Linked DNA regions of Homo sapiens. The gene in region 1 interacts genetically with each later gene. Each region holds a gene or a part of one and is shown on either strand. Other genes may lie near its edges. The genes, in order: GMPS and ACY1.

Region 1 (3,815 bases):
ACTTTTTTTTTAAAGGGCCACTAGTAAACTTCTTAGTCCTTAATAACATTTACTTTTGTAGATACCTTTTATACTTTTTAAAAACAAGGTGCAATTGATAGTTATAATGAAATGAGGTCAGTAGTTTAATGATAAAAGTTATTGTACATATTATGGAATTAATTGGAATTGATACCAAAAGGCTGAATAAAATGAAGACTTGTAGGTAAGTATGATGTGAACATGAGTCTATTTTTTTGAAACTTCTCTAAAATAACAGTAAAAGCATAAAACAGTGTAATACCTTAAGGATGTGGGATAGAGGAGATGACAGAAGACAGATGGTTTCAATAAAGTGTTGGAAAGTGGAAAGCAGATGGGTAAAGGTGGATTTTCTCTGTTTAAGCTAGGGGGGTCTCTCCCAACATCCTGGGAAGGTCCCCAATGGTATCTTCACATGGTGATAGGTTTTTGTGAAATTTGCAAGATATTTTGATAATTTGTAGTTGTTTATTTTCTTTCAACTCTGACTTGTTTTCTGTTAGGTGGTGCTGGAATAGCTGTGGGCATTTTGAAATCAGGCTAAGACAAAGATGAGCTGGGGATGTGCTTAGTATGGGTTTAGTGGTATATATGTGATTTGCAATTATTTCTGTGTATAGTTAAGTACTTGTTAGCCATCCCAGTATAACTTAAGATTTTTAGTATCTTATTTGTTATTCTGGTTCTTGAAGGAGTCCTTCAAATTGTAAAACTTGGATCTGTCCCTGGTAACTGACATAGCAGAATGGAGGAATTCACAACCTTGGGGTGGGGTGGGAAGGAAGCCAATAAAAAGCAAGCTGATTTGTGCTGTAGACTTCTGGGGAGGCTCAGGAATTTGAAGCATTGGGTTCTTTTTGGGACATTGGTCTCTGGGTTAGCCTAAAACAGGGATTAGTTAAAAATCTGAGAAGCAGATCCTTTTCCTTAGCACAGGAGCAAACTGTGCTCTCCTTCCCCATCAGAACACTGTGGATGTATTCTCTAGAGGGGCTAAACGAGAGGTTCTGGGCTTGAGCCTACTAATACCAGGCATAGTTGAGGGTGGAGGTAAGACTCTACATTAAGAACAGGATTAAGTAAAATTCTCTATGCTGAATGGTGATTCCCTCTTCCTACCACTTCCTCTGTTTAACTGCCAGAATGCCAATAGGCAGGAGAGTAGATATGTCTTCTCTGGGTAGTTGACCAGGTACAGGAAAGACCTACAAATTCACTGGCTTTTCCACAATGAAATAGCCAGCTGCCTTGTCATCTTACGGTGAAGGCCTCCAGTAGCTAAGTTTTATTAGCAAATAGAGATCTTAGTTTTTAGTTTCTTGTCATTAAATAAAAAGCCAAGGATTGTTAAATGTATGTTCATAAATATTAGTTTTACAAGACACTAGGGTGTGATTCCAACAGCTTTGACTCCGTTTAGGAGCCGGTGCTTTTGACTTCTTTGGGGCTAAGCTTCTTGCTGTGGCTTCTGCTTGTTGCTCTGGTGAAGCACTGAAGAGAGGGAAAACAATCAGCATAAATTTTTTTTTTTTTTTTGAGACAGAGTCTTGTTCTGTTGCCCAGGGCAGAATGCAGTGGCACAACCTCGGCTCACTGCAACCTCTGCCTCCCAGGTTTAAGCAATTCTCTTGCCTCAGCCTCTGAGTAGCTGGGATTGCAGACATGTGCCACTACGCCCCACTAATTTTTGTGTTTTTAGTAGAGATGTGGTTTTGCCATTTTGGCCAGGCTGGTCTCACACTGCTGACCTCAAGTGATCCACCCAACTTGGCCTCCCAAAGTGCTGGTATTACAGGTGTGAGCCACCGTGCCGGCCCTAATCAGCATAATTTGTGATGTCATGGCCCTAGATCTAAATGCCAGGAGATTCTCACAGAAACAAAATTTAATGAGTGCCTGTATCTGAATTCTGTTACTCAGGATTTATTGATAGTTCTTTTTCTTTTCTTATTTTTTTTTTGGGGATGGAGTCTCTCTCTGTCACCCAGGCTGGAGTGCAGTGGCACAATCTCTGCTCACTGCAAGCTCCGCCTCCCGGGTTCACACCATTCTCCTGCCTCGGCTTCCCAAGTAGCTGGGACTACAGGCACCCGTCACCACACCCAGCTAATTTTTTGTATTTTTAGTAGTGATGGGATTTCACCATGTTAGCCAGGATGGTCTTGATCTCCTGACCTCGTGATCCACCTGTCTCGGCCTCCCAAAGTGCTGGGATTATAGGCATGAGCCACCGGGCCCGGCCAATAATTCTTGAATATTGATAGTTTATTGAAATTTGTAGGCAGATTTAGGGGAGATCAAAGGACTGCTCTTCAGACTGGGAAAGAAATAGCTTTTCTTTCTGTATTTTGACTTGTTATTTTTGATTAAAAAACATGTTATACCAATTTAAAACGCTTCTCCCCTTTCCTCCAGTGATAAATGCTGCTCATTCTTTCTACAATGGAACAACAACCCTACCAATATCAGATGAAGATAGAACCCCACGGAAAAGAATTAGCAAAACGTTAAATATGACCACAAGTCCTGAAGAGAAAAGAAAAATCATTGGGGATACTTTTGTTAAGGTACCTTTGTTTTTAATATCCTCAACATGTACTATTTTTGATGTGAATCTTAGTATTTGTTTTTCCTTGTCACTATATCAAATAACCAAATTAGCTAATTTTAATCCTTTTTCTTATGTGGCTGAGAGTTTTATTGTATATTGTCATTATATTGACCAGTAGAAACTGTTTTATGTTTTTTTGTTGTTGTTTGGTTTTTTTTTTGTTTTTTTGAGACAGAGTCTTGCTGTGTCACCAGGCTGGGCTGGAGTGCAGTTGCACGATCTCGGCTCGCTGCAACCTCTGCCTTCTGGGTTCAAGTGATTCTCCTGCCTCAGCCTCCTAAGTAGCTGGGACTACAGGGGTGCACCATCATGCCCAGCTAATTTTTGTACTTTTAGTAGAGACGGGGGTTTCACCATGTTGGCCAGGTTGGTCCGGATCTCCTGACCTCATGATCCGCCCGCCTCAGCCTCCCGAACTTCTGGGATTACAGGTGTGAGCCACTATGCCCAGCCAACTGTTTTATGTTTTAATAAACATGTTTGCCTACATTGCCAGGCTATTATTTTAAGAATAGATGTCTTTAAGAGTAGATGTATTCAGCTTATCATAGACTTTAATTCATTGATTATCTCAATGGCTAATTTCAAGCTCTTGAATGGAATGTTCACATACCTTTGTTTTTGTTTTTTTTTTTTTTTGGAGGCGGAGTTTTGTTCTTGTCACTCAGGCTGGAGTACAATGGAGCGATCTTGGCTCACGGCAACTTTCACCTGCTGGGTTCAAGCGATTCTCCTGCCTCAGCCTCCCGAGTAGCTGGGATTACAGGCATGCACCACCATGCCCAGCTAATTTTTTTCTTTTTTTGAGATGGAGTCTCACTCTGCCGCCCAGGCTGGAGTGTAGTGGTGCAATCTTGGCTCACTGCAAACTTTGCCTCCAGGGTTCAAGCGATTCTCCTGCCTCAACTTCCTGAGTAGCTGGGATTACAGGCGTGTGCCACCATGCCCGGCTAGTTTTTGTATTTTTAGTAGAGACGGGGTTTCACCATGTTAGTCAGGCTGGTCTCAAACTCCTGACCTTGTGATCTGCCTGCCTTGCCTCCCAAAGTGCTGGGATTACAGGCGTGAGCCACCACACCTGGCCACTAATTTTGTATATTTAGTAGAGATGGTGTTTCATCATGTTGGCCAGGCTGGTCTCGAACTCCTGGCCTCAAGTGATCCACCCCACTCAGCCTCCCAA
Region 2 (3,478 bases), about 100 Mb from region 1:
GCCCCATGCTCAGGGAAGTCAGAACAGGATAGAGCAGATCTGGCTAGATCAGGCTCTGCTACTGGGGCCATAGTTTACTCTTGGTACTACCTGGGGGTCCTAGCAAGGCTGAGATGAAAGCCCAGTTCCTGGGCCTCTGCACACACAGATCCAGGGTGCTGAGGCCTCTAAGATGAACTGACCTAGTCTACCAGGGACCCTGCCCCTCTGTGGCCCCTGCTGCCAACACAAGGGTGTACAGGTTTTGACAGGAGCCAGCAGTCACCGTTGGCCCTCTGCCTGCCCCTCATCTAGCAGGGGCCCAGCTGGTGCTATTCTGGTACTGTCTCAGGATCCCAGATGTACACCCAGGAAGATGGGAGTGGTTCCTGAGGTCCTTAGTATCCCTCTTTAATGGGAATGGAATCCCTGATAGGTCAGAACTAAGTATGGTGGCCACTCAAATAGGAACTGTGGCCCTTTCTTGCTAGGCACAGACATGGCTGGATGGTACTGAATGGGTGTGCTGTGTCAAGGGGCACAGAGCAGTGTGGGGTAGTGGGGAAGTGCTAACAGCCAGGCTCAGTTTCCTCATCTGTGAAATGGAGATGGTAACATGTCCCCAGGAAAAGGAAAATTCTTGCTCCACGAGTGTCCTTGTGTTAGTACTTCAGAGACAGCCCTGTCCATAGACTTTATTATTTGGAAGGGGGAAGAGGAGGTCCTTGGCACTGGTTGGGATGGAAGCCCCAGGGGCAAAGGTTTAGGAGTTCCAGGGCTCAGCTGTCACTGGGCAGGGCAGGCACACTGGCAAGGGCAGGCAGCAGGCGTGTATATATGTCCACCCCACGGAGGAACACAGCCTCATGCAGCCGTTCATCGTGGTCGTGCAGCAGCACAGGTGTGCGGTTCATGGGTGAGAAGCCTAGAGCTGGGACCCCCACCTGCAGGGGTGAGGAAGAGCCGTTAGGGAAAAGCCAGCACTCAGGCCCAGTCCACTGCCCAGGCACTATATGCAAGTGGCTCACCGCGCGGATATAGCGGTTGTCAGTGGCAGCAGGCATGATCTCAGGCTCCAGAGTGAGGTTCCTGTAGGAGAAAGAGCCTGATGAATGGGGAGGGAGAAAGCGAAGAATTGAAGGGGCAAAGGAAGGTGGGAAAGAGGTGGGAGAAGGAGGGAGAAGGGAGGGGGCAGCAGGAAGGAGAGGAGTAGGGGGCTGGGCTGTGAGGAGAGCTGGCCAGCGTGCTCACATATCCTTGCAGACCCGGCTAAAAGCTGCCCACCAAGGGTTTGAGTCATCAGTAGGTGTCACTTGGGGGTGCATCCACTTCTGAGGGACAGGAAGAATGGCAGGATCAGGACATGGGCCTGGGCATCTTGCCCTATTTCCCATAGAGTGGGCTGTGCCTAGTACATAACACCTCCCCACCCCCACTCCTTCACCTACCCAGACATCTGGGTAGCCAGTCCAGCCACAGGTCCTCTTTCAGCCCCTCAAATGTCCTAGGTCTGGGACCTTCCCACCCTCCGTCTACTTACCTCCTGTCCATCCTTCAGATCCTAGCCCAAGTGCCCCTTCCTCAAGATGGCTCCCCCAGACCTCTCAGACTAGTTGGATACTCCAGTTACAGGTTTTCAGAGTGCAAGGGGCCACCCTTTCCTGTACCACATGGGTTATATGAAAGTACGGCTGGGCGCAGTGGCTCATGCCTGTAATCCCAGCATTTTGCGAGGCCAAGGTGGGTGGATCACTTGAGGCCAGGAGTTCGAGACAAGCCTGGCCAACATGGTGAAACACTGTCTCTACTAAAAATGCAAAAATTAGCTGGGCGTGGTGGCAGGTGCCTGTAATCCCAACTACTCTGGAGGCTGAGGCACAAGAATTGCTTGAACCCGGGAGGCGGAGGTGAGCCGAGATTGTGCCACTGCACTGCAGCCTGGGTGACGGAGTGAGATTCTCTCAGAAAAAAGTAATATCACATAAATGTTTGATTTATATCTCCCCGTTTCACCATACAAGGGCATGAACTGTGCCTAATTTTACTCCCCACAGCATTCCCCAGCACCCACAGTGGCCTCTACAATGAATGCTTGTTGGAATAAAATGTGTCTGTCACAGATAAAGAAATGCCCAGACATATGCAGACACACCAAGCACACACTCCACTGTTGCACACTTGGGTCTCCCCCGGCTCCCACACTCTCCCATCACATGTCCCAAGTCCATACCTGAGCAAACTCTAGGGTGACCCCCTCGCCAGCTGCCTGGCACCAGCTCTGCAGCTGCTCCTCAAAAGCCTAAGAGAAGGGAGACGAGCTGATCCTTCAGGCTTTCCAGAGGCCTCTAGGACAAGACTGAGGACCCAGGATCCCTCCTCCAAACCCAGGTGGAGGTGGCACCTTGAAGTCCACATCCGGTGCCACACGGAAGTCAAAGCTGGCGCTCATGGTGGCAGGTATCACGTTATAGGCCACGCCACCCTCTAGCTTAGTCAGGTTCACGGAGGTCACGGACCCCTCTTTCAGGTGGGGGTTTGACTGCAGCCTGTGGTGTGGGGGCAGGGTAGCGGCAGCAACAGATAAAAGAGGTGGCTCAGACTCTATCCTCTGTGGTACCGCCTCCCAGAGCCACCCCACTGCCTCCCAGGCTGCCTCACCTCTGCCATTCCTTCTCCCGGAATGCCAGGATGGAGTTTACAACCTTGTGCTATGAGAATATGAGGTTAAATGGGACAGTGGCCTCAGGATAGAGCCTCCTGAACTCCCAGACTCCCTCCTGGGGTGCCACGTACCAGCTTCTCTGCTGCTGTGTCCTCCATGAAGCGTGAGGCATGGCCTGGCCTCCCAGTGCTGGTAACCCGCACCCCTGGGGAGGTGTAGGGGGAAGGCAGTGTCTTCAGCCTGAGGGGCTGGAGACACAATCAGCCTGGGGTGGGCCCAGGTCTCCCCCTCATTCCAGGCTCCTCTGGCAGGGTCCTGTCCCCACTCAGGGCCCGTAGCATACAGCTGGTTTCTGCCCATTCAGGGCTTGCCCTCAGAGAAGCTCAGATAGGAAAGAGCTGGGAGGTAGAGGCCCTGGGTTCAAGGCCTTCTCAGGCCTCAACTTTGCTGTGCAACCCTGCATAGGACCGTGCCCTTTCTGGCCTAGCCTCCCGCCTGTAGAGTGAGCCCTCCCTCCAAGCTCATACTTACACCAGGGACTCCGCTCACTATAAAAGACAGTGAAGGCATCAGTGGGATTGGCTATGCCTGAGGAGGGAAAGGGGGTTCAGAGGGTGGAGCAGCTCAGTCCCCACTAGCAGCCTCCTACTCCCTGCCTGGCTGCTCATTGGCTTGCCAACCTGCTCACCCTCATCCAGGGCAAAGCCTGCCCTCAGGGCGTGGAACTCAGGCCGCTGCACGAACAGCTCCATGCCTTGGTGACCCCCAACCTCCTCATCTGTAAAAGCAGCAGGGACGTGAGATGAGGAGGCTGCCCCGCCCCACCCTCCCCTTTCC

What was found.
Region 2: changes in GMPS (region 1) and ACY1 together harm fitness more than expected from each alone (negative genetic interaction), as found in Homo sapiens cells (one large-scale study listed by BioGRID).

What each region holds. Positions count from the first base shown.
Region 1 is NC_000003.12:155,911,983-155,915,797, forward strand, and holds part of GMPS (GMP synthase [glutamine-hydrolyzing]), read left to right. Parts: intron 1-2,436; coding exon 2,437-2,588; intron 2,589-3,815. UniProt on the Homo sapiens protein: Catalyzes the conversion of xanthine monophosphate (XMP) to GMP in the presence of glutamine and ATP through an adenyl-XMP intermediate.
Region 2 is NC_000003.12:51,986,356-51,989,833, reverse strand, and holds the end of ACY1 (aminoacylase-1), read right to left. Parts: intron 3,420-3,478; coding exon 3,330-3,419; intron 3,230-3,329; coding exon 3,173-3,229; intron 2,847-3,172; coding exon 2,773-2,846; intron 2,688-2,772; coding exon 2,638-2,687; intron 2,526-2,637; coding exon 2,381-2,525; intron 2,279-2,380; coding exon 2,210-2,278; intron 1,311-2,209; coding exon 1,231-1,310; intron 1,069-1,230; coding exon 1,008-1,068; intron 924-1,007; coding exon 759-923; 3' UTR 637-758; downstream 1-636. Other genes in the region: ABHD14A-ACY1 readthrough (NMD candidate), read right to left, coding at 759-923, 1,008-1,068, 1,231-1,310, 2,210-2,278, 2,381-2,525, 2,638-2,687, 2,773-2,846, 3,173-3,229 and 1 more. UniProt on the Homo sapiens protein: Catalyzes the hydrolysis of N-acetylated amino acids to acetate and free amino acids.